Linked DNA regions of Homo sapiens. The protein of the gene in region 4 interacts with the protein of the main gene of each other region in a biochemical or structural test. Each region holds a gene or a part of one and is shown on either strand. Other genes may lie near its edges.

Region 1 (7,346 bases), on a different chromosome or scaffold from region 4:
CTTTCATAATTTAGTGATATCAACTCCTTAAGAAAAGATGGTATCATTGGGGTAATATAGAATACTAAATAGTCACTGTTTGCAAGACACAGTGCCAGATGCTATGTTCTGTGGGGTAGGAAGGGGAGAGAGGACAAGAAATTTTGAAGAGCCACTTGAGTGTGATAGGCTTTTAACTTTAACACTTAGCCCACCTCTTAAAAAATCCCAAATTACCCCAAACAACCACCTATAAAATCACTATTAACTACTACTTTAAACTATTCAAAGATTTTTATTTTTATTGTTAGTAATGGTGTAAAAAGGTATCTCTTCCACTGCTAATAGCAGTATAAATCAGTAAAATTCAGCTGGAGACCACTTTTAACCTTATGTTATAAAGACTTACGATGTTATACATTGTTTAGCCCAGCACTTGTGCATTTAGAACTTTATCCCGAAGAAATAATTACTAGAGTGTGCAAACATTTAGCTGTAACAGCAGAGGTTTATGATAGTGAAAACCTAGGGACAATTGAAAAGTCTAAAAAGAGGATATTAAATAAATTATGATAATACTGACATTAAAATAATATCATAGAAGAATATTTAATGACATGCTTCATAATATTAAGTGAAATGAGCAAGTTACAGAGCAGTATAATCTACTTTTTCTGCATATAAAAAATTACTGTAAGGACATAAACCCATATGTTATTATTGCTAGTTATCTCTAGATGTCAAAATTATGGAAGAAAGTTTTCTTTCTTGTTTTGTAGTTTTTCTAATCTATATTGTTTAAATTATCTGTACTATTCATGTGATTGCAAAGGAAACAGTAAAATGTATATATTTTAAAAATAACTCTATTTCTAGTGTTTTCTTATTATCTTATGAAAACCACTGTCCAATTTCTTTTGTTCTGCTTGCATGGCCCTTTGGAACTGGTGTGGCTTTAAACCAAGGCTGTCTCTTTGAATTCTAAGGTCTACTATACAGTCTGTGAGATGTCTACAGAGCTTGAATGTTCAACAACATATGAAGATGAGTATTGTTTATATTTCCAGTTAGAAATATCATTCTGAGTTTGTAAAAAGATGCAGATATTTTAGCTTAAAATTGAATGGATGCATCAGAGTTAATTAGCAATGCTTCAAATTACAGACCACTGCCTCTTCTTGTGCAACTAACCATCAATTAGCTATGCTAATGAGAAAAGCAGGAAATGATTGCAGGAGAAAATGAAATCAGTAGGGAAAAAAGAAAAACAACTGATTTTAGTCTCTAGTTTCAGCCATCAATTGTCAAAACTTACCAGGATTACATATAAGTATAAATTCTAACCTCTCTTTGAAAGAGGCAGTGTATTAATAAGAAAGTAATGTTAATTCTTTAGAAGTTTTTTCTTTTCTCGATTATCCTTCAGAGATGCCATACCTAAATAATAAAATGACCAGAATATGAGCAGCAGGAAACTTATAGACAAAAGGTTCGTCAGTGGTTCTAGTGTAATCCCTAGGGGAACACTTAAAAAAATATCAGCATAGAGGTCTTTCTCCAAACCATTTAAATCAGAATCTCTGTGGAAGGTGCTAATTAATCCATAAGATGCAAAATGTATTTCAACTTGATTCCAGCTGCTGAATATTTGCTTTACTCTGAGTTCTCTTTTTGGACAGGAAGGGACTCTGATAAACCACCTCTGGTTCTTTCATCCCCACCTCCATCACTCCATTTTTAGGCAGGAGAACTTTCCCAATGAGACAGTCTTACAGGTGTCTCCTGTAGGATCTTTAAATACCTTCCTACTGGCTCTCTTCTCTGTTAAGGGCTTGGATGATTTTCTCAAAGAGAAACTTTTATGAGGGAATGCAGGATTCCTAAGCAGTATCTCCCTACCCAGTGCCATGATAAATATTTGGATGCAAAGAAAACAGGAAATAAGTCATTGAATGGAGATTGCAGCTCCCCAGAGAGCTCCAGATGACAGGCTCCTGGAAAGTGTTCCAAGTTCTGTTTGTTCTCCAGTCCTGAGAACAGTAATCTTTGCGGCTGTACTTTTCCTCTTCTTTCCCTAGATTTCACTTTTACAACTTTAAAAAAGTATAATAGCTTGCATTATATGCTTACTGCACAAAGTTTTAAGACAAAAGAATTACAAATAGCAAAATTGAAATCATCTGTGAGCCTCCCTCTTCCCCACTCCAGAGAAACATATCATTAATGTCATTAATGTATATCTTCCATGTTTTCTATGTGTAGAAACATGTATTTTATTTTACAGAATTGAGTCATCATATATGTACACTTTTGTAACTTGCTTTTTAATCTTAACCTTATGTTTTGAGTTTTCTGGATCATCAAGCTTCAAAATCAAGATTTCTGTGTATGCAGCAAAGCCCATCATAGATATTTACTATCATTTATTTAACCATCCCTCCACATTAGATCTTGATTATTACTTCTGAAATCTGCCTTGTTTTATCTTTTTCCACTATTTATCAGAAAACAAGATCAGCCCTGGTGGGTTCATACCAATTACTTTTCCTAACTGGTGCTTGACATTGTATCCACTAATTTCCTAAAGTCACAGATGATAATTACAGATACTGAACCCTTACACCCTCCTATGCTACATATGCTTTTCTCCAATTTTTGTAACCAGCACTTGCTTAATCGGTGATAATACTGCTTTTCTTCCTTTAGGCTAAGCCACACTCCTCAAAAATCCTGAAGTTTACTTCACCGTCTTCCAAATATGTATGTATGTATGGAAGATTCATCATTTTAGTAGCTAACTTACACTGAATGTTACTGTATATACTGTGACAATAGGTTTATATGATTTTTTAATTTGACCTTTATGATAATAACACGGGGTAAATACTACTATTATTCCCATTTTACAAAGAAAGTGAGGCTTCTTTTGAGTAACTTGCCCAATATCACACACAACTAGTAAGAGGCAAAGCTGGGCCCTGAACCCAGAACTGTTTTCTTCTGAACCATTTTTTTCATTATTATTAACTAAAGTCCGTGTTTATTAAAATTTTCTTAATTTTTACCTAATGGCCTTTTTCTGTTCCGGCATCACACCCAGGATAAAACATTACATTTCTTTGTCATTTTTCATTAGGTTCCTCTTGGCTATGACAATCTCTTAGACTTTACTTGTTTTCTCTAACAGAGTCATCCCTCATCAGCTACAACACCATAGCAGATATAATTCATTGTGCATTACTATGTATGGTTCTGATCCTCACAGCAACCCTCCAAAACAGATGTTTTAATCCTCATTTTATAGATAAGAAAATTGAGGCTTAGGGAGATGAGAACTAATGGTGCAGTTCACAAAGCTGGTAAATAATGGAACTCAGATCCTGACCCAGGACTATCTGACCTTGAGTGTCATGTTCTTTTCACTACTCTGGTTTAGATGACTTATACATGCATGCTTTTTATAAATAAATCTGAATGCTAAAACCAGAGTCAGGGTGCCATAAAGAAAAGTTACATCTGGTTCAACTTTCTTATCTAATATCCAAGCACTTTCTATAGATTATCCAACGAAAATTTCTAAATATATAGTCAAAAGGTATCAGTGTAGTTTGTACACGTTTCCACAAAGCCTTGCCCAATTTTGAACAGTCCTGATTGTTAGAAAGCTCTGTGTTCCTCCAACTGATTTTTATCCTTTGGTCTTAATGTGGCTCTTAGGAGCCAAACACAATCATCTAAGCCTTCTACCTAAGTACCCTGCAGGCAGACACATCTCCCCCAGACTCTCTTTTCCTGGCAGAGTACGGCTTAGTTTATATTTTCCTCAGCATCCTAATGATGCTACTTTAAATCACAGTGACTTGCAGTATCCCTGTTTAGTTGCAAGTCCTTATAGTGCATTTTGGTACAGCAATGTGTATGTCCTATACAATCAGGACTCAATAATTGCTGTTGACTTCTTCCTTAAAGGGAACCACTTACCACCATCACCATCCCTTCTCGCCTCCCCTCTCCACACACTACATTTCTAAATCCTCAAGTCCAAAGGACCCTAACACTGACACTTCTTGCAACCCTTTAAATGAGGCAGCTCTCCCTAGAAAACCCCTTGAGACACAAGTTTGGAAAGTGAGTCAAACGTAAGAGGGATGTCTTCTCCGAGTCTGAGAAGCAAGTTAAAGGGCAAAAGCAGTGAGCCGTGGACGCCTGGAGACAGTTTCTTTCTTCCTGAATTCCCCAAAGCGCAGAGACAGACAGGATCTGCCAGGACAGCGCGCAGGGCGGGGCGGGGACAGGCGCGCCAGGAGCGGGGCGGGCTTCCAGCCGCTGGTTTTGCTGAGGGCTGAGGGACGGCTCAGCGACGCCACGGCCAGCAGCGCTCGCGTCCTCCCCAGCAACAGTTACTCAAAGCTAATCAGATAGCGAAAGAAGCAGGAGAGCAAGTCAAGAAATACGGTGAAGGAGTCCTTCCCAAAGTTGTCTAGGTCCTTCCGCGCCGGTGCCTGGTCTTCGTCGTCAACACCATGGACAGCTCCCGGGAACCGACTCTGGGGCGCTTGGACGCCGCTGGCTTCTGGCAGGTCTGGCAGCGCTTTGATGCGGATGGTGAGTAGAACAAGCCACTTGCACACTCAGGTGTAGACGTGGCTCCAAGCTCAGCCCGCTGAAAGGACCTGGAGTTTCCCCTTTACTGTAGGAAAAGTTATCGACCTGGGTTGTTAATGCAGTGTACCTAATACAGTATCATTAACAGACGTTTGGCATACTGGTGATACACATCTATATACCTTGTTAAAATTCTGGGTGGTGAATTTCCACTTTCCCCTTTCCAATCTCTCTTTGTGTGCGAGCGCGCCATATATATGGTAGACATACATATATATTGTATATACAATGACTAATATCATTGTATATGTTCAAGGCTTGTGGGCTGAGACTCAGCTATTTGAAGTCATCCTTCCCTAAATGGGCTCACTTTTACGCAGTGACTTTGCTGTACACCCCTCACTCTCTCAAAATGAGAATAAATTTTATCAGCTTTCAAAACGACTCCTCCACCAAAAAACTACTTGAAAATAAAATGGAACTACTTAATATTTGTTTTTATTAATAAAGAAATAAAATATCTAAAAGGTGTGTTTTAACTCTGCAAACTGGGATTCAATACTTACACCTGTTAAGTTTCTCCAAGCTTCAGAAATTTTGGGGTTAAATTTTATTGGAAAGTTCACGTTTATTCATTGATTAAAATTCATGTACTTAATAGCCTTCCTTTTCCAAGCACTAATATAAACCCTAGCATAAAGCACGTATTCTGGAACAGTGTTTACTGTTCAAACCCATGTATTCTAGAGGTAGGTGTTGGCACTTTGTTATTGGAATAACAAAAAATAGTGTTGAGGGAAGCTTTATGAATTGTGAGATTAAAAACATATTTAGATAAATACTGTCATGTGTTTTTTATATGTTAGTATTATTTATGTTTATTTTCTCACATTTAGAAAAAGGTTACATAGAAGAGAAGGAACTCGATGCTTTCTTTCTCCACATGTTGATGAAACTGGGTACTGATGTAAGTACTTGCACACTAAGCCTTAATTTATGCCTCTTAGTAAGATACGCACATCCAAGTCTTATATTGATTGGTACCTATTAATTCCAACTCACCTCCTTTCTTCCTTGCATGTATGTAATTTCTCCCCCTCTCCTAGCAACATAGAGGGATTTAGGCAGTTTTTATAAAAGGTGCAACTGTAGCATTAGACATGCTGGTTACTGACTTTCAGTGTAACATCTGTCATCCACTCAGAGATCCTAACTGTAGACTCAGTTAACTTGGTCTTGAACGTCTCCTTGGTTATGTCTCTGCTAATTGATTTATACCTGGGGGTAAAGTAGCCCACTTTGTTCAAAAAGCTGGAAAAGATGTTAAGCACATTAAGATTTTGGGTGTTTAATATGTATGATACTCCTCTGATAGCAAACCACAAACCATTTAAAATCATTTATCCATTATTCATTTTATTAGAAGAGGTTACAGATTTTTCAGGGAATGACAAACCAGAAAACAACCAGCATACTCAGAGCCCAGATACAAATGGAAGCCAATCTATCTAGTGTCCATCTGATGGTAAATATGTCCTTGGGAGATGTAAATGAACTCTTGAAAGTCTCTCTATCAAAGCAGAGAAAAATTTTACACAGAAACACATGAGCGGAGGACAGCCTGGGGATGGGCTCGATCTGATGAAAGCTCCAGTAGGGCATTCATAGTAGAAGGAGACGCTCTAGGGACAATTGAATTTAAATGAATGATGGAGATAGTTTGTCCTTATCATTCAGCTGTTTATCTGAAGAATAGAAGTGCATCACATTCTCATGTGAGAGCTCAGTGAGGGAACAAGGAGCTCTTCACCACTGTTGAGAACATGGGGAGGGTATGTGGGGGGCAGGGGAAGCTGGTTCAGAAACAAAAGGGCTGGCTTCCGCCTTCTTCAGCCACACAGATCTCTTGGTCCCCCTCTACTTCTGTCTGCCTCTCATATTCTGTCTGTCTCTCTTTTTTATGTCTATCTCTGTCATTTTTCTGCTCACTTCTGTTTCTTATCTCTGTGTTTCATGGCTCTCATCTCCTACTGTTTCTTGCCTTTCTCTCTGACCTCTCTGTTGCCCATCTTTCTTGTCTCTGTTTCTCATTTGTTTCTCCATCTCTCTGTCTCTGTGTTTTCCCATTCTTTTTCCAGTCTCTCTGCTTCTCAAAGCTCTTTTGGTCTTTCCTCTCCCCATGTCTTTTATTTCTCCTTTCTTCTTTCTTTCCCATCTCTCTTTTTGACCTTCATTTCTTTTCTCCACATTTTCTCCTTCACCCTTTTCTTTGTCTCTTATCTCCCTTTTTCTGTACCTTTTATTGCTCTTTGTCTGCCTGCACTCCACCCCTTACCCTGTGCAGCCTGTGAAGTGAAAGGATCAGCAGACGAGAAGGATAGAGACACAAGTCCCTTCTTTCCTCTGGTCAGACCACTTGCGCACACTCCTCTTTATCCTTCATTCTTGTACCTACACAAGCTACAGGTAGAGCTGAGGAAGCCTCCCCCAAGTGAGGCTTCTGCTTCAATCTAGCCAGCCACTTTCACGTGCTAGCAGCCCATGGTGAAGCCCACCAGCCTTGCCCACAGGGCTTCTACTTATATCTGTAAATGTAAGGTTCATCGTGTTCCAGAAACCCATCTTATCTATCATGGACATGGGTATTTGAGGAAAGCAAAAAGACAAAGTTAAAACCATTCAAAATCTTGGAATAAATGGGATGGCCAGCTCCTAAAAATCTGTCCTCAGGGACCTGGAACTTCTCACCTTTTCAGAGGGCT
Region 2 (3,962 bases), on a different chromosome or scaffold from region 4:
GTCCAGAAGCCCAAAGTTACCTCCAAGCAGATAACTCTGACCCTGCTTCTCCTCTACCACAGCTTGAGGGTCCTCTGCCTTAGACAGCTGGATTTATCTAAAAGAGAAGAGCAGTCATAGATCTGTAGATTTTATACTGGAAGTAATTGTCATGGCCTTGAATGGTTCCTTGCTCAGGTTTCTCTTTCTAATATCACATTTTAGGCTCCTGAGCTTAGCTTCTTACTTATTATTTGGTCTGGGAGTTTAGGTTGATTTGTGCAGCTGAATTGTTAAATTCAGAATATATTTACTGATTACTTATTACATGCAGAGCACAGCTCTAAATGCAATATCAATCTTTGCGAAAAGGTGTTGTCACCTAACGAGATGTACTTCAGCTTGAAAAATCCTTATATTACAGCTGTGACAAATAGTCAACTTTACATCAAGTTGGTAAACTTTACATTTGTGGCATGTGTATGTGTGAGTATGTGTGTGTATGTGTGAATATGATGTCAGAAGTTCAACCTATTCATTAATAAACAGAATTTGCTGTAATCTGCCCCCCAACCCTGGCAATATTTATAGTTCCCTACAAGGCAAAATGCTTTGCTCACTTTTGGAGCAAAGGGCATGCAATTCATCAATGCATCCTTTTCCAAGCTTGCAAATAATGAAATCAGTCACTTAAAGATCTCAAAAAGTTGTAATTTAAAGCAAAATAAAGCCAGGCATAGGGGCTTATGCCTGTAATCCCAGCACTTTGGGAAGCTGAGGCAGGAGGATTGCTTGAGGCCAAGAGTTTGAAGCCAGCCTGGTCAACATAGTGACACCCTATCTCTACAAAAATAAAAAATAAAAAATAAATAAAATAAAGTGACTAATGCAGTGAACCTAATGTTTAAAATCTATTTTTTGTGATATAATAATGTGAACAAGTAGTGACTTTTATAATATAATTTAAAATTATAATCTAGAATTAAAAAGCAAACACATCTGTAATAGCACCAGTATTTTTGCAGTGTTACTTACATCATCTGCTTTTCATTGTTTTGGTCATCGTAATTATTGTGTCATTATCCACTGAACAGTTCGTAGCAGTGTTCTTGCTCATAAGTGATATAGATGAAAGCCTTCTACTCAGGCTTTTAAAATATATTCTTATATTAATCAAAAATAAAATTCATGTGCAAAACCTAAAAATATAATTAATGAAACCATACTTCAGGAGAATTATGGTTATTTGTGATTTTTTTATGACTTGTTAATGACACATCAGTATGAGTTGCTCATTTAGCCTTGATTCTGCCGAGTTACCAGTGAAGAGCAACAACCCCACTGCTTTCTCTCCCACTGAAGGAAACGCTAGAGTTCAAGTGGGTGTGAGTTATACCAAAAACGACAATGTTAACTACACTTCTGTCTTGGAAAATACTTGTTTAGTGTGTTCCATTACTACATAACTGCTACTCTAATGGAATCAGAAGTATTTCTTAATAAGGCTCTACTTTCCTATATATATTATTTAGAATAATATGATTGATTCAAGAAAATAAAATTGCTCTCCTCGTCCCTCCAGGTGTTCATCTATATCATTGTTTCACCTCTCTGTGGTGGATTTACATGGCCAAGCTGTGTGAAGAAATAGGAAAGAAGAAGTTACCATTAACCAAGGATATGAGAGAACAAGGAGTTAAAAGCAATCCATGTGACTCAAGCCTTTCACATACTGACAGATGGTATCTGCCAGTCTCTTCAACCCTCTTCTCACTTTTTAAAATCTTGTTCCATGCCTCCAGGTTTATCTTTGTCTTATCTACCAGTTTATTCCTGTGAACTTCAGATTGAACCATTCATTGCAGCAGTAGCCTTAAAAAGGCTTTTGTTTATTTCTTTGGTTTGTTAACTAGTGTCATCTATTTAGAGAAACATTTTTGTTTTTAATTGCTCAAAGCTGTCGCCGCTAGTCTTATGAGCTATCTACTAAAACTATGGAGAAACTTTGTATGTGCACACAAAAGTATTCAAGAGACAGTATTGCTAACATCTCATCTTAATGTCTTTTGTTATTGAGAAGTTTTAGGTGCTTCAAAACAATATAAATGGATAATAGTTGTTATTTGGGGAATTGTAATGATGTTGGTGCTGCTTCCTTCTAAGAGCTCAGACAAGTAAAGTATGAAACATTCTTATTTCAGTTAGATGGGGAACATTTTGCTAGCCCATTAGAAGCACACAGAATTATCCTTGTCCTCCTAATATTGACTTTCAGGAATAAAGTTCAGTGTGCTGATCATTCACAATACAGTGGATAGCTTGATATCTTCTGTTTTCCCATTGCAGTTGATTTGAGAAGATGAAGGTTTAAATATTGTTGAAAGTTGCAGTTTTTTAAATGTGTTCCTTTTTCTTCTGTGAATATTTAGGGCAATCGTGTCGCTAATAGAATATGTAGTAGAGGGGGTGGGGAGGTAAATTCCTCTGACTTGCCAAAGAAAAAGAAGGGAACCACAGTGGATATGCTAGCATTTTAGCTGTGCAAAGGGAGGTAGTGTGGGAAAAGTGTTTCCATTCTGGGAAAAGCCCAAACCGAATACGGTCAGCAGTCAACTCCAGGGTTTGGGCTTGATTCCTGTTGAATAATAGTTTTGAGCATTCTTTGTGGTTAAATAAATTCTTAAATCTGCCTAGTTTTGATGAATTCTTTTGTGAAACTTGAAAGAGAATAGACAGTATGACATATAGAATTAATACAAAACAGTTTAACAACCATTTAACTGCAGTGTAAGAAAATTGGACTGTAATCATATCGCTACTGGCATCTGTTATCTAGTATGCATTTCTGGTGTGTATCTGAAAGGAAGACATTTTCTACCCTAGATCCAATTGCATTTATTTATCAATAAGTGCCATTAAATTGAAATTATATTACATTTTACACTTTCTCAATGAATGAACAAATTAGTCTGTAGAATCTAGCCACCTGTTTAGCCTAGTCATGTGCCTTGAACATATATGTGTCCCATAATCTGGCTCATGGTACCTGTTCTTCTATCCAAACCTTTCAATTCATGCTACCTGATTCATTTATTTGACATAGATCTTAGGCCCACTTGAACTCTTTTCTTGTTTATCTAGCATAGCACAAACGTTTTTCCAGTCTTCTTTATCAACACTAATGCCTCTTAATTGCATCAGTATTTCCTATTGGAAAATACATCTGTTCCAGAAAAACATTTGGCATTCCTGAATAATTTCCAAATGTTTTTAATCCAAAGAAAAAGGTTTAAAGCTTATTTCCCTTTCTTATACACACCTGAATAAAATTGATGTGCATGTTTTAGGGATCAATTACCTAACTGTTCCTTGGTCTATTTATGTATAAGAATGCTTTTTAAAGCACATGTCTCATTTTAAATGACGCACAAACTGAAGATGTTAATAAAATTTAAGAGTAATACAATGATTTGCTTGTTTTAGAAGTTCTTTCTGGAACCTAATTTCTTCTGATGACATTTGCCATTGTTTACAGAACAAAAGTATTTTACTTATGCGGAAAATATATTAAGAAGTGTTACCTGGAGACTTCCAGTAAAGATCTGTAGCATAGTCTCAGGTGTGTAGAATTTCTTCAAAAGACACAAATGAACTTAAAAAATATATAGCCCATGCTGAAACCAATGAAAGATTCTGAGATGATCACACAGCCTTCACAACTATCGTCCTGAGTGCATGATTTAGACAGAACTGAAAAAGAACCCCAGGGATTTTCATCCAGTTTAGCACAATTCTGAAAAATCTTTCTATCTAAAGTTAAATGACTGGTTCTGAAAGAGACTCAAGCGGAAGGCATAATGGTGGGAGGGAATAATTCATTATAGCAAACAGGGTACCTAAACAGAAATAAAAGAAAAACAGGCACAAATCAAATATACAAATAGATAGGTCACAACAAAATAATCAGTCACTTGGGACCTCTG
Region 3 (7,037 bases), on a different chromosome or scaffold from region 4:
TTTGTTTAGGGTAAACTTCATGATCCAGAAGGCATGGGAATTATTCCAAGAATAGTGCAAGATATTTTTAATTATATTTACTCCATGGATGAAAATTTGGAATTTCATATTAAGGTAAATTCCTTGAGGAAAGATTATATTTTATTTTACAGCAAGAATAATGTTCTAAAAAAATAGTAAATGCTGGTTTCTTTAATTTTAAAAATTGTTTTTCTGGAAAGGTACAGTTGAAAGATCATTCAGGTTAGTAAACTTGGATTTTTGTTCATCTGCCATTAGATGAACAGGAATGTTAACTAACGTAAATGATTAAGTCTTTAGCCTCCTTCAAAAAATAAAGGAGGTTGCTTTACTGCAGAACTTGAAGGTTTCTACTACATAAAACTATTCTAATTCATTTTAGATGAAGATAATGTAATTTATGTCCAATGGGAAGACTGCTTAAATAACTAAGCTAATTTGGCTAATTTATGTCTTCCCATTAGAATGTGAGCTATGGCTGGTATGTTGATAACTGTCTCTCTAGTCTAAACAATGCCTAGCACTCAGACCTCAATATGCGAATAAGTTATATAACTTTAGTTGATCGGTGTTTTTTTAAATTTGCCCTTTAGGTTTCATATTTTGAAATATATTTGGATAAGATAAGGGACCTGTTAGATGGTAAGTTAAATTCTTGCTAATCAGTTTTAAATAACATCTGTTAATTCCTTTTTAATAATAGATGTGAGACTATTTCTTTGTAACCTATATGAAATTGTCTTAAGTTATTGGAAATAGACAAAATTTTTTTTCTTCTAAAGTTTTAGTTGAATACCTTTAAATAGAATAACTAGTTTAAAGCGATGTTTATGGGTACTTCTTAGTAGTAATTAGAGCATTGGACTGGGAGTTACATAATCTGAGCCCTGAGTTCTAGTCTTCTGTCAACTGTCAATTAGATACATTGTCCTTAGGCAAATCATTGAACCATTCAGGGTTAATGTTCTTGTTTATAAAATGTGGGTGGTAGGTTGGAGTGGTCCTAAAATTCTATATTGTTGCATTGGTTTCTATTTACATCTCCTGCTGTGTCTGTAAGGTCTGCTTTAGAGCAATGTTTTAATATGTTTTTAGAGTTCAACTATTGCTGTTAGGCTGCTCAGGAAAGCCTATCAGTTATTTCATATCCAGTGTTAAGAGTTTTAGGAGAATGTTGCTAACATTTGTTTTTCTTTCTCAGTTTCAAAGACCAACCTTTCAGTTCATGAAGACAAAAACCGAGTTCCCTATGTAAAGGTATTTATAGTACAGTTGTCTAGAAAACCCTGTAATACTTTTTTTTTTTTTTTAAGACAGAGTCTCACTCTGTCGCCCAGGCTGGAGTGCAGTGGTGCAATCTCGGCTCACTGCAACCTCTGCCTCCAGGGTTCAAGCAGTTCTCCTGCCTCAGCCTCTTGAGTAGCTGGGATTACAGGCATGCGCCACCACGCCCAGCTAATTTTTGTATTTTTAGTAGAGACGAAGTTTCACCATGTTGGCCAGGCTGGTCTTGAACTCCTGACCTCGTGATCCGCCCGCCTCTGCCTCCCAAAGTGCTGGGATTACAGGCGTGAGCCAATTCATTTAATATATGGAGGCTCGCTCTGTTGCTCAGGCTGGAGTGCATGGCATGGTCTCGGCTCACTGCAACCTTTGCCTCCCAGGCTCAAGCGATTCTCCTGCCTCAGCCTCCCAAGTAGCTAGGATTACAGGCACCCGCCACCGCGCCCGGCTAATTTTTGTGTTTTTATTAGAGAAAGGGTTTCATCATGTTGGCCAGACATTAACATATTTTTAAAAATTATTTCACAGGGGTGCACAGAGCGTTTTGTATGTAGTCCAGATGAAGTTATGGATACCATAGATGAAGGAAAATCCAACAGACATGTAGCAGTTACAAGTAAGTAGAAAATAACACTGGTTAGGATTTAAAACCAGCTTAAAATATCCTTATCCAGGTGATTAATTATAAGATTGCTTCAGGGAAATTGTTAAGGGGAAATCATGTTTGTTTATATTTGTTTGTGTAATTTCCTTGCAGATATGAATGAACATAGCTCTAGGAGTCACAGTATATTTCTTATTAATGTCAAACAAGAGAACACACAAACGGAACAAAAGCTGAGTGGAAAACTTTATCTGGTTGATTTAGCTGGTAGTGAAAAGGTAAAGTCTTCATGTATTTTGACAAATATTTAAGCATCTTTGTAAACTTTAGTTTGAGTTGGGAGTTACGCAGGGTTCATTGTTGCATCTTACTTACCAAACTGGATTTGGTAACCTGAGATTTGTAACCGCTGATGCCAGTGCCTTATGATGATATCAGCTGAATAATCAGTTCCAAGTTACTGTTGTTTGACCATACTCTAGTTCAACCCATAAGTGGTTTCTATGACTTAAGATATGTTCATAGTGAGAACTGGTTCAGCATATGTTGTTATAAACTTTATTAGATATCCCTTTTCTAATTTTTGATACGTATTTTATCCATATTGGCAGTGGGGTCCCTATTAAAACTGGTAACTCTCGATTAGTCTTTTCTGGTTTGGTTGGACTTATTTCTTTCCTTTGGATTATTGTTTCATTATTACAATTCTATACAGTCTGATTCTAGTCTATATCAAATTAAGTTTGAATGTTATAATAGGGACCTCTGACCATTTTTGCTGTTGTGCTAATTTTGTTTCTTCTGCTTAGAATGATATATCTATTCCGTTCTACTCTGAAGTCTTACACACATCTTTCAAAGATTATCTAATCTGAGAAATCTCCTAAGCTATTTCTTCAGCCAACATTGCTAATTTATTGTTCTGACCTATCTTTAACATAGATACTAGCTGGGCATGGTGGCACATGCCCGTAATACCAGCTACTGGGGAGGCTGAGGCAGGAGAATTGGTTGAACCCGGGAAGCGGAGGTTGCAGTGAGCTGGGATCAAGCCACTGCACTCCAGCCTGGGTGACAGAGTGAGACTCAGTCTCCAAAAAAAAAACACCACAACATAGATATTTAGATATTTTATATATTTTTAAAAGAAGCAGATTTGCTTATATAATGTGTTTAAAACTCAGTCTCTGTTTTCTAACAGTTACAACATCAACATTATGCATTAGCCAATTTTAGAAGGTTCCTGTTTTCTAATGTAGCAAAGGGGACTAACAGATTAATGAACTACAAATTTACATTTAAATTGGTTATTTTCAAGAGTACCTACAAACTACAGATAAAATTTGATGTCTCTCTAATCAAACTCTTAAGAGTAGTACTCAAGAAATGGTGGTATGCTTGGCAAATAAGATCATGAAGCTTTTCATGTTCTTTTTTCTTTTTTACTGGTTATTGATGACATATGAACATTTTAGAAAATGTAAAGAAAATTATAAACTTGTAATTTTGTTTCATTCTTTTGAAATCTTATGTATAGGTTAGTAAAACTGGAGCTGAAGGTGCTGTGCTGGATGAAGCTAAAAACATCAACAAGTCACTTTCTGCTCTTGGAAATGTTATTTCTGCTTTGGCTGAGGGTAGTGTGAGTATACATGTCTTCTATCTCCCTGTTACCTTATGGGGCATTATTTAAATATAGGTGTATATGTGTGCCTGGGTGTGTATGAGAGAGAGAGAGAGAAAGAGAGATTGAGATTCAATGTGTTTGAATCAGTATGTGTAAGTTAGTTGTCTTTTGGGAGTTTATTTTATAATAACATTTTATTATACTGGTCTTGTTTTCTTTCTTTGTTTTTGTATGCAGACATATGTTCCATATCGAGATAGTAAAATGACAAGAATCCTTCAAGATTCATTAGGTGGCAACTGTAGAACCACTATTGTAATTTGCTGCTCTCCATCATCATACAATGAGTCTGAAACAAAATCTACACTCTTATTTGGCCAAAGGTTTGTTGTTAAGAAAGTACAAAACCTAAATTTAGATAGACCTTTTGTTTATAAAATGTAGGAAAATGTGAGCTGTTATTCCAACCTGTACATACTGTTTTGTGCTAGACACACTCAGTTTGAATTGATGACAGATAATACAAGGTGGGTCTGATTTTTAGACTGCTTGGTTTAAGTTTTAGTACACATTAAAGTCAGATGTAATTTTAGTCAAATTTGTGTGACAAGCTGTAATTTGGTATTAAAGAAAATAAGCATTTGAATCAAATAATGAGGTCAAAGCCTGGCAAACATAATCCTCTGTTAAGCCTGTAGACATGCATGACAGGTTAATATAATCTGTATGAGATGATTAGGAAAATCAGTAATGATGATTCCGTCTTTGACTTTCAACAGTAATTTCTTAATTCAGCCTTGCAAACAAATTGGAAAAATATAGGCCTTTGTCTTTTATTTTTAGTGGTTTGTTGATTTTTTTTTTTTTAAAGCTATTCACAGATTTTGGAGCAGACTCAAATTTAGTTGAGTTGTAAATAACGTCATATGTTGCGGCTTTTAGTATTTAGTCTAAGAGATTACTGGACAAGCATAAGTTTCTTAGCCATATATACATATATTCCATATAGATAAAATTAAAAATAATTTCAGTCTCATCCTTTTTTTCCTCCAATTACATCTCTTAGGGCCAAAACAATTAAGAACACAGTTTGTGTCAATGTGGAGTTAACTGCAGAACAGTGGAAAAAGAAGTATGAAAAAGAAAAAGAAAAAAATAAGATCCTGCGGAACACTATTCAGTGGCTTGAAAATGAGCTCAACAGATGGCGTAATGGTAATAACTTAAGAATTTGTCATCTTCAGTTTGTTAAATACAGATTTAGAGCATAGAAACGTAGAAATAGTTCAGCAAAATCAGTAAGTGACTAGATCAAGAAATTTAATAGACATCGAAATAATTTTTAAAAAAATTAATAGAAATCCTGGAGCTGAAAAATAAAATGAGCAAAATGCAAGAGACCATCAGTAGTAGAATTAATTAAGCAGAAGAATCTGAACTTGAAGACAGATTATTTGAAAATAACACAGAGAAGAAAAAGTTTGAAAGAACGAGGCTGGGTGCACTGGCTCATGCCTGTAATCCTAGCACTTTGGGAGGCCAAGGTGGGCAGATCACTTGAGGTCAGGAGTTAGAGACCAGCCTGGCCAACATGTTGAAACCCCATCTCTACTGAAAACACCAAAATTAGCCTGGCATGGTGCTGAGCGCCTGTAATCCCAGCTAATCAGGAGTCTTGAGGCAGTAGAATTGCTTGAACCCTGGAGGCAGAGGTTGCAGTGAGCCTAGATTGCACCACTGCACTCCAGCCAGGGTGACAGATTGAGACTCTGTCTCAAAAAAAAAAAAAAAAATTTTTAAAGGAATGAAATTGAAATTAGCTTTAGACGTCGTTTTTTTATTAACCACTTTATTTTCTTATTTTAGGGGAGACGGTGCCTATTGATGAACAGTTTGACAAAGAGAAAGCCAACTTGGAAGCTTTCACAGTGGATAAAGATATTACTCTTACCAATGATAAACCAGCAACCGCAATTGGAGTTATAGGAAATTTTACTGATGCTGAAAGAAGAAAGTGTGAAGAAGAAATTGCTAAATTATACAAACAGCTTGATGACAAGGTAGGTATTGCTTGATTTAGGTCTGCTTTATATTAGGATACTATTGACATGGGTGTTTTTATTTTCTAACTTTTCTCATTTCAGTGCTGTGGGCACTTAGGATCTTTATGCATCTTCCTTGATTTCTGTTAATCTTGTAAAAATTATTGTATTAACAAAATAAAAAGTCATAATTTCAATTTCTGTGTGGAAACTGTATGAGCATGTATCTTTTCTTCCCCCTCTTTTTAAGCTAAAAGAACTTTATAAGGCAGCAGTCCCCAACCTTTTTGGCACCAGGGACTGGTTTCAGGGAAGACAGTTTTTCCGTGGATCAGGTCGGGGAGATGGTTTTGGGATGAAACTTCCACCTTGGATTATCAGGCATTAGATTCTCATAAGGATCCTCTAACCTAGATCTCTTGCATGCACAGCTGATAATAGAGTTCGCGCTCTTAATGATATTCTAATGCTGCTGATCTGGCAGAAGGCGGAGCTCAAGTGGTAATGCTTGCTGCTCACCTCCTGCTGTGCTTCTTGGTTCCTAACAGGCTTCCAGTACTGCTTTGTGGCCTGGGGGCTTGGGGACCCCTGTTCTAATGAAAATTTGGCATTGGGTCATTGGGAGCCTCAATGATACCAATTGTTAGAATCAGGGCTCTGAAGACTCCAATAAAAGATGATGTGAGAGATTAAGGGAAACACAATAGAGTGGAAATAATATCTTCCTGCTTTGCATATAGAAGTAATGTCAATAGTATGAATAATAGCAAACTAAGAACGTAATAGAATGGAAGGCAAGAACAAGAGTAGTAAAGAGATTAGAAGAAAATATTTTCTTAAGTTGATATTTTTAATATATTTTAAGCAGAGATGGCAGGTTCGAAGTACATGACCATTATAAGTATTGATAATTGAAAGAAATTCCTTTTGTTTTGCCATTTTCTTAAAAGAGATTAAAATAAGCAATGTTGAATTTAGAGAAATGGTTTTGAAATATTTCTGGGGAGTAGTAATCTTATAACCTGTATTGGGAAACAACTAGAACCAGGTTGTTAGCTACTGGTTAACCGGATACTTCACAATTCTAGGATGAAGAAATTAACCAGCAAAGTCAACTGGTAGAGAAACTGAAGACGCAAATGTTGGATCAGGAGGAGGTGAGTTGAATACCTTTTACATTGCTTCCAGAAAAGCTTTATAGTTTTGTTTTCTGAATCCCATTGACTTTGTCTTTAATAGTTGTATAATTTTGGGTATGACTGTCTTTGTGGGAATAAGAATGTCACATGGATAAAGTGAATTTTTACTTATTCATCGTATCTACCCAGATACAATCTGTTGTTCATTTCCGCCATCTTTTTTTTCACCCTGGTTCTTGACATTTCTCTTCTTGTCACTTACTTTGGATCCTCATTTTATCTTCTCACCCAGCAGAGCAGGGGGATAATTGAAAAGCAGT
Region 4 (7,037 bases):
AATCCCAGCACTTTGGGAGGCTGAGGTGGGCGGATCACGAGGTCAGAAGTTTGAGACCAGCCTGCCCAACAAGGTGAAACCCCATCTCTACTAAAAATACAAAAATTAGCTGGGCGTGGTGGCACACACCTATAATCCCAGCTACTCAGGAGGCTGAGGCAGGAGAATCGCTTGAACACAGGAGGCAGAGGTTGCAATAAGCCGAGATCGCATCACTATACTCCAGCCTGGGCAATAGAGTGAGACTCCGTCTCAAAAAAAAAAAAAAAAAAAAAAGTAAGTTGATCACTACATTTTTAGTTATTTTCAGGCGCTCCTTAAGAGAAAATGTGTAAGGACTTCCAGTGTGATGTTGAAAGAAAAAGTTTTTTTAAAAAAGAGAATATTTGGATGGTGAAGTTCATGGGAATAAAAATTTAATGTAGGTAGAAATCTAAGTAAATTACAGATATTAGGAAATTGTTAAATAGAAGTCTAGCATTTCTCAAATACATAGTAGAGTATCTTTGTTACACTTAAGTAATATTAATAATTACCTAAAAAATAAAAATCATACAAATTGTTTTCACTTTAGTTTTCTGGTGAGTTAAAAAGAAAATAAAAACCAGCAATGGCACTAAGGAGCAAATGTGTTCTTTGATATTAATGGACTAGGAAGAGGCCAAAATGTCCCTAAGAAGGCTCTCTCACTCCTCCAATATGAAAACTGAAATAGAATTATTTACTTATTTTAGGTAAAACATTTACCTCATCAGTAATCTGGTGAGCTCTCTGTTGAATTTCTTCTGATGACAGATTATCCATGATGAATCAAAACTCTATTAGGCACAGAAATGGAAATGTGGATATTGTATAAGAATAAGGATATATAAAAGTTTGTGTGAGCAAAAAGTGTAGATTTATGGAATTTAGGAACTTATCAGGAAAACAGGATAAAAGAACCTCTTTCTATATCTATTAGTCTACCACAAGTAAAGAAATCAAGACCGAGAGAGGCTAAATGAATGTTTAATAAGAGTGCCAAGGGTGAACCTAAAATACAGGTTTTAGGACTTCTAGGGAAGTACTCTTTCCAACAGGAAAGTGGATCCTCTACTTAGAGAAGCAAGGCATTACTGGAAGACAAGCATTAAAAGACTATTAAAGTGAATTTTTGGTTGTTCAATGTTCTTCATGTGTTGTCTGAACATGGAAAAGCAGTAGGTGAAGAAAAGTCCAATTTAGTAAAGTAACAAAATTTGAAGTTATGTGCCTGAAGAACACAGGAAACATTTCTAAATATGCCAGTTGTCCAGGACACTCACTGGAGAAAATACTTTCACTCTTAACAAGAAAAGGGAAATGCTGGTACAAACAGCTCGGAAAAGACTAAGGTTTTTATTATGCATTAGACTCTTCCCCTCCAGTGGCTTATATTGTTTTGTTGTTTTACTGGAGTCCCTAAGAAACCAAACAATTATTCTCCTATACACAGTAACTCAGAAGGAGATCTCATAGACATCCAAGCTAAAAAATAAAACATTTCGTAGGTGTTACTCAGCACGGCTGTTATCTAATTCCTCTTTGAGAAGTCATGTGGAGTAATAACAAGCATTGTGCAACGGATCTAGGTTCTTTGTTACATTTGCTAGCTTTGTATGAATTTTCTCAAAACTCATTTATCAAAACTCACGGTCAATGACACAGATAAACTCTGGTTCTTATTACAGATTTGACCCCAGGAATCTGGCAATGTCTGGAGTTGCTTGATTGTCACAACTTGGGCCAGGTGATGGGGCTGGTTAATGGCATCTAGTAGGTAGAGGCAGGGAAACTGCTTAACATCCTACAACACTCTTCAGGAAAGCCCTCCAGCAAAGAATAATCTGACCCAAAATGTCAATTTGAGGTGAGAAACCTTGCCATGGATATACTCTTTGATAAGCAGAAAACTTAATTCCCCAAGAATGTACTGGACTGAATTCTTGGAAGGCAGAGATTTTATCTTTGTATCTCTAACACCTAATAGGATCTGATGGTAGATACTCCAAAAATAGCTGAATGAACAAATAAGTAGAAAAACAGGGTGTACTCTCAAAGTATTTACATGGCTCTTAGAAACAAAGCTGCATGTAACAGTAGCACAAAGCTCGCAAAGAATCACTAGAGCCACAAACCAAAAACTGCTATTGCAAGTGTATGATATGATCACATATAAATCTTTTCAGTCATTTTTGGCTGGGTGTGGTAGCTCATGACTGGAATCCTAGCACTTTGGGAGGCTGAGGTGAGTGGATGGCTTGAGCTCAGGAGTTGGAGTTCAGCCTGGGCAACATGGCAAAACCCCATCTCTACCAAATATACAAAAATTAGCCAGGCATGGTGGCGCACACCTGTAGTCCCAGCTACCGGGGAGGTTGGGGTGGGCGGATTGCTTGAGTCCAGGAGGTTGAGGCTGAAGTAAGTCAAGATCATGGCACTGCACTCCAGCCTGGGTGACAGAGCAAGACCCTATCTCAAAAAACAAACAAACAAAAAAATTTAAATCTTTTCAGTTGTTTTTAATTGAACCACTACTATCATGTTATTTTTTTTATTTTTTTGAGATGGAGTCTCACTCTGTTGCCCAGGCTGGAGTGCAGTGGTGTAACCCTGACTCACTGCACCTTCTGCCTCCTGGGTTCAAGCAATTCTCCTGCCTCAGCCTCCCAAGGAGCTGGGATTACAGGCATGCACCACCACGCCCCACTAATTTCTGTATTTTTAGTAGAGATGGGGTTTCACCATGTTGGCCAGGCTGATCTCGAACTCCAGACCTCAGGTGATCTATCCACCTCAGCCTCCCAAAGTGCCCAGATTGCAGGCCTGAGCCACCGTGCCTGGCCTTGTTTATAATTCTACTGTCATAGCTGTTTTATGGTTTAAGATTTTGAGGGCCAGGCGCAGTGGCTCACGCCTGTAATCCCAATACTTTGGGAGGCCGAGGCGGATGGATCACGGGGTTAGGAGATCGAGGCCAGCTTGATCGACATGGTGAAACCCCGTTTCTACTAAAAATACAAAAATTAGCCGGGAGTGGTGGTGAGCGCCTGTAATCCCAGCTACTCGGGAGGCTGAGGCAGGAGAATTGCTTGAACCTGGGAGGCAGAGGTTGCAGTGAGCCAAGACTGTGCCACTGCACTCCAGCCTGGGTGACAGAGCGAGACTCCATCTCAAAAAAAAAAAAAAAAAGATTTTGAGCCTTGATTAAAGCCATTAGTGCTCATGAAAAAAAGCATTTTAAGTTCCAAATTTAAGTTTCTATCTTGCTTGCCATAGACTGTGCTTCAGGCAAAAAGTTTCCACACTAAGATATAATCAAGATATAAAGATATCATTCATTAGATACAAGCATAAAAGGAACCAGGTATTTTATTAATTTGCTAATTGTTTGAGTCTTAAGCTTTATCATACATACACATGTCCATGCTACTGTTCCTCTTTTGTCACTCTTTCCTATTTGCAACTACAAAAAGTAAATGGAGATTATTTTTTGTACCCTCTCACCTCCACACTTTTGCACACCTTTCCTTTCTATAATACCCCACATCTGCCCAGGTAGCCTCATGCTTTTCCATCACTTCCTAAAGCCCCAACCGAGATACCTCTCCAAAGCCTGCCCTCCCCAGGCAGTAATGCTCTGAAGTTATCTATTCCTGTCATGTGTAACTCCTCAATGCCCGACAGAGAAGAAAATATGAAAAATAATATACACTAATCCATTAGTGCCTGGAAAAGGCACCCTTAGTGAGGTTTTCAGATATAGTATCCTGTGGGTCGGGAGACATTCTGGGGTAAGGAAGCCCAAATATCACAAATTATGTAATTTTGTAATTCTATTCCTAGAGGTGATTATTGCCAATTACAAGTCAGTCTTTGCTAGCTTCCTAGGAAAAAAAAAGCAAAACTCCAGAGTTAGGAGTGAATGCACTCCTGACCTCTGTGCTGCCTTCTTTAAAAGAAAAAAGAAAGCAGATATAACTGGGAGATGGATAACGTGAGGAATCACCCCTGACATCGCAATGAGGTCATTCTGAAGGACACATCCTTTCCATGTGAACTCGAAGTTCTGCTTAATATTTTTTTCTTCCCTGACCAGACAACACGCAAGACAAGTAACAGATATCTACTCCCAAGTTTGGCATGCTAACGCCAGGATGCAGCTGCCTAAGATTACTCTGTGTTCTTGAGGGTTTTGAGCACAAGTTTAGTGTGGCTGTCGCTCAGAGGGTTGGATTCAGTACTGCCTGTGGATACCAATTGGCCCTGAGGAACCTGCAGATATAAAAGTCCGCCCTCTGTAGACGGGAGTTTTGCATGTATGAATACCGTATTTTCTTTTCTTTCTTTCTTTCTTTTTTTTTTTTTTTGAGGCAAGGCTTCACTCTGTCATCCAGGTTGGAGAGCGGTGGTGCAATCAGGTTCACTACAGCCTTGCCCTCCCAGGCTCAAGCAATCCTCCCATTTAGCCCCCTGAATAGCTGGGACTACAGGTGCATGCATCATGCCCGGCTAATTTTTAAGCTGTTTTATAGAGACAGGGTCTCACTATGTTATCCAGGCTGGTCTCAAACTTCTGAAACTTTTGGGGTCAAGCAATCCTCCCACCTCAGCCTCCCAAAGTTCTGGAATTACAGGGATGAGCTACCGTACCTGGCTGAATACCATATTTTCTATCTGCATTTGGTTATAGATGTGGAACCTGCTGATACGGAGGGCTGATTGTATTTACTGAAAAAAAAATTTACCTATAAGTGGACCCACGCAGTTCAAGCCCATGTTGTTCAAGGGTCAACTGTATATGAAAGTAACAGAGTCAAAGTAGAATTGTAAGGGGAAGGACAAAGACAGACAAGGAATAATACTCCTCAAGTTCTTATTGGTCTTTGTAAGTTTGCTGAGACGAGTCAGAGAGAATGTAACCTATAATTAGCTACATAGCCTTACTCATATTTATTATTCTCTGCAGACATTTTCCTTACGGAATCAGGAAAAGGTTACCCAGAATATTACAGAAAAGAGAACTGGTGGGGTGGGATGAAAAATAAAACATCAGTTGATACAAAGATGCCATTAAACGTACTTTTCTCAGATTTAATCTAATCTATTAAATACTTGTGTCATTTTTCCAGTGCTGCTGGGAACTTATACTATGCTAATAGTGTGCCTTTCAGAGGAAAATGCAAGATTTTTCTCAGTGCTTTTACACCCTATTTCTCATGCTATGGTTCACTTGGGCTTACTAAAAGACTCCTAATTTGACCTTTTTCTTTTCTAATTTAAACCTAGGCAGGGAAAGAAAAGTTCACTGAGTACCTCTTAGGCACCAGATACCCTACTAAGTATTTATCTACATCATTATCTTCATTATACTATTTTACAGATGGAGAAACTAAGGCTCAGTTTAGGTAACTTACCCAAGGCGGCTGTGTCAGTAAAGAGCAGATTGATTATTCAAGTCGGGATCTACTCGCAAATTAAGTATAATTCATGGTCTGATAAAGAGTCTTTCTGGAGCTGGGAGTGGTGGCACACGTCTGTAATCCCAGTACTTTAGGAGGCCAAGGCAGGAGGACTGCTTGAGGCCAGGAATTCAAGACCAGCCTGGGCAACATAGTGAGACCCGTTCTCTACAAATAATCAAAAAATTAGCTGGGCATGGGGCGCATGCCTGTAGTCCCAGCTACTCAGGAGGCTGAGGCACAAGAATCACTTGAACCTGGGAGGCAGAGGGTACAGTGAGCCGAGATGGCATCACTGTGCTCTAGCCTGGGCAACAGACCAAGACCCTGTTTCCAAAAAAAAAAAAAAAGTTTTTTCTGTTGACTGTATCCACCGCCCCCTTAACAAACAATAGATCATATGAGAGCTGCTGAATATTGGAAAATAGGTCAAGCAATCCTATATGATGGCTCATTTCAAAATTTCAGATGCTTTCTATAAGACCATGAAATTTTATCTCTTCTACAGACTCAAAGAAGACAGTTAAATTGAAGGAGAAATAGACCACAGTAATCATGGTTTTCAACTGTCTTCTATTATTTCAGAAGCTGAAAATAATCTACATTAATTTAGAAAATGAAAAGAAGTCTATTGGCTAGGCACAGCGGCTCATGCCTGTAACTCTGGCACTTTTGAGGGCTGAGGTAGGAAAACGGCTTGAGGCTAGTTTGAGACCAGCCTAGGCAACACAACAAGACTCTGTCTCCACAAAAAGTAACAACAAAAATAGCCAGGTGTGGTGACCAGTGCCTGTAGTCCCAGCTACTTGGGAGACTGAGTTAGGAGGTTCACTTGAGCCTGGGAGTTCAGGGCTGCAGTGAGCCATGATCCCCACTACACTCCAGCCTGCCTGACAGAGCAAGACCCCAAAGAAAGAAAAGAAATGGGCCGGTCACAGTGGCTCACGCCTATAATCCCAGCACTTTGGGAGGCCGAGGTTGGCGGATCACAAGCTCAGGAGTTCAAGACCAGCCATTGCCAAAATGGTGAAACCCCATCTCTACTAAAAATACAAAAATTAGCCAGGTGTGGTGGTGGGCGCCTGTAGTCCCAGCTACTCGGGAGGCTGAGGCAGGAGAATCGTTTGAACCCGGGAGGGAGTGGTTGCAGTTAGTCGAGATCATGCCACTACACTCCAGCCTGAGTGACAAGAGCAAGACTCTGTCTCAAAAAAAATAAAAAAGAAAGAAAAAAAAAGAAAAGAAAAGAAAGAAGGAAAAGAAATGGAAGGGAGGGAGGGAGGAAGGGAGGAGATAAGAAAACAAGCAAGCAAGAGGCCAGGTGCGGTGGCTCACGCCTGTAATCCCAGCACTCTGGAAGGCCAAGGTGGGCAGATCACCTAAGGTCAGGAGTTCAAGACCAGCCTGGCCAACATGGTGAAACCCCGTCTCTACTAAAAATACAAAAATTAGCCAGGCGTGGTGATGCACACCTATAATCCCAGCTACTCAGGAGGCTGAGACAGGAGAGTTGATTGAACCCGAGAGGCAAAGGTCGCAGTGAGCCGAGATCATGCC

Evidence for each region.
Region 1: the proteins of SNAP23 (region 4) and SCGN form a complex in vitro, tested with the Homo sapiens proteins (one study listed by BioGRID).
Region 2: the proteins of SNAP23 (region 4) and VAMP7 form a complex in vitro, tested with the Homo sapiens proteins (one study listed by BioGRID).
Region 3: the proteins of SNAP23 (region 4) and KIF5B form a complex in vitro, tested with the Homo sapiens proteins (one study listed by BioGRID).

What each region holds. Positions count from the first base shown.
Region 1 is NC_000006.12:25,647,902-25,655,247, forward strand, and holds the start of SCGN (secretagogin), read left to right. Parts: upstream 1-4,313; 5' UTR 4,314-4,502; coding exon 4,503-4,584; intron 4,585-5,480; coding exon 5,481-5,551; intron 5,552-7,346.
Region 2 is NC_000023.11:155,940,322-155,944,283, forward strand, and holds the end of VAMP7 (vesicle-associated membrane protein 7), read left to right. Parts: intron 1-1,561; coding exon 1,562-1,630; coding exon of another isoform or gene 1,631-1,818; 3' UTR 1,819-3,448; downstream 3,449-3,962. UniProt on the Homo sapiens protein: Involved in the targeting and/or fusion of transport vesicles to their target membrane during transport of proteins from the early endosome to the lysosome. Required for heterotypic fusion of late endosomes with lysosomes and homotypic lysosomal fusion.
Region 3 is NC_000010.11:32,032,404-32,039,440, reverse strand, and holds part of KIF5B (kinesin-1 heavy chain), read left to right. Parts: intron 1-9; coding exon 10-114; intron 115-614; coding exon 615-663; intron 664-1,222; coding exon 1,223-1,278; intron 1,279-1,833; coding exon 1,834-1,921; intron 1,922-2,062; coding exon 2,063-2,187; intron 2,188-3,446; coding exon 3,447-3,551; intron 3,552-3,773; coding exon 3,774-3,919; intron 3,920-4,602; coding exon 4,603-4,751; intron 4,752-5,402; coding exon 5,403-5,596; intron 5,597-6,666; coding exon 6,667-6,735; intron 6,736-7,037. UniProt on the Homo sapiens protein: Microtubule-dependent motor required for normal distribution of mitochondria and lysosomes. Can induce formation of neurite-like membrane protrusions in non-neuronal cells in a ZFYVE27-dependent manner.
Region 4 is NC_000015.10:42,505,614-42,512,650, reverse strand, and holds part of SNAP23 (synaptosomal-associated protein 23), read right to left. Parts: intron 819-7,037; 5' UTR 805-818; coding exon 748-804; intron 1-747. UniProt on the Homo sapiens protein: Essential component of the high affinity receptor for the general membrane fusion machinery and an important regulator of transport vesicle docking and fusion.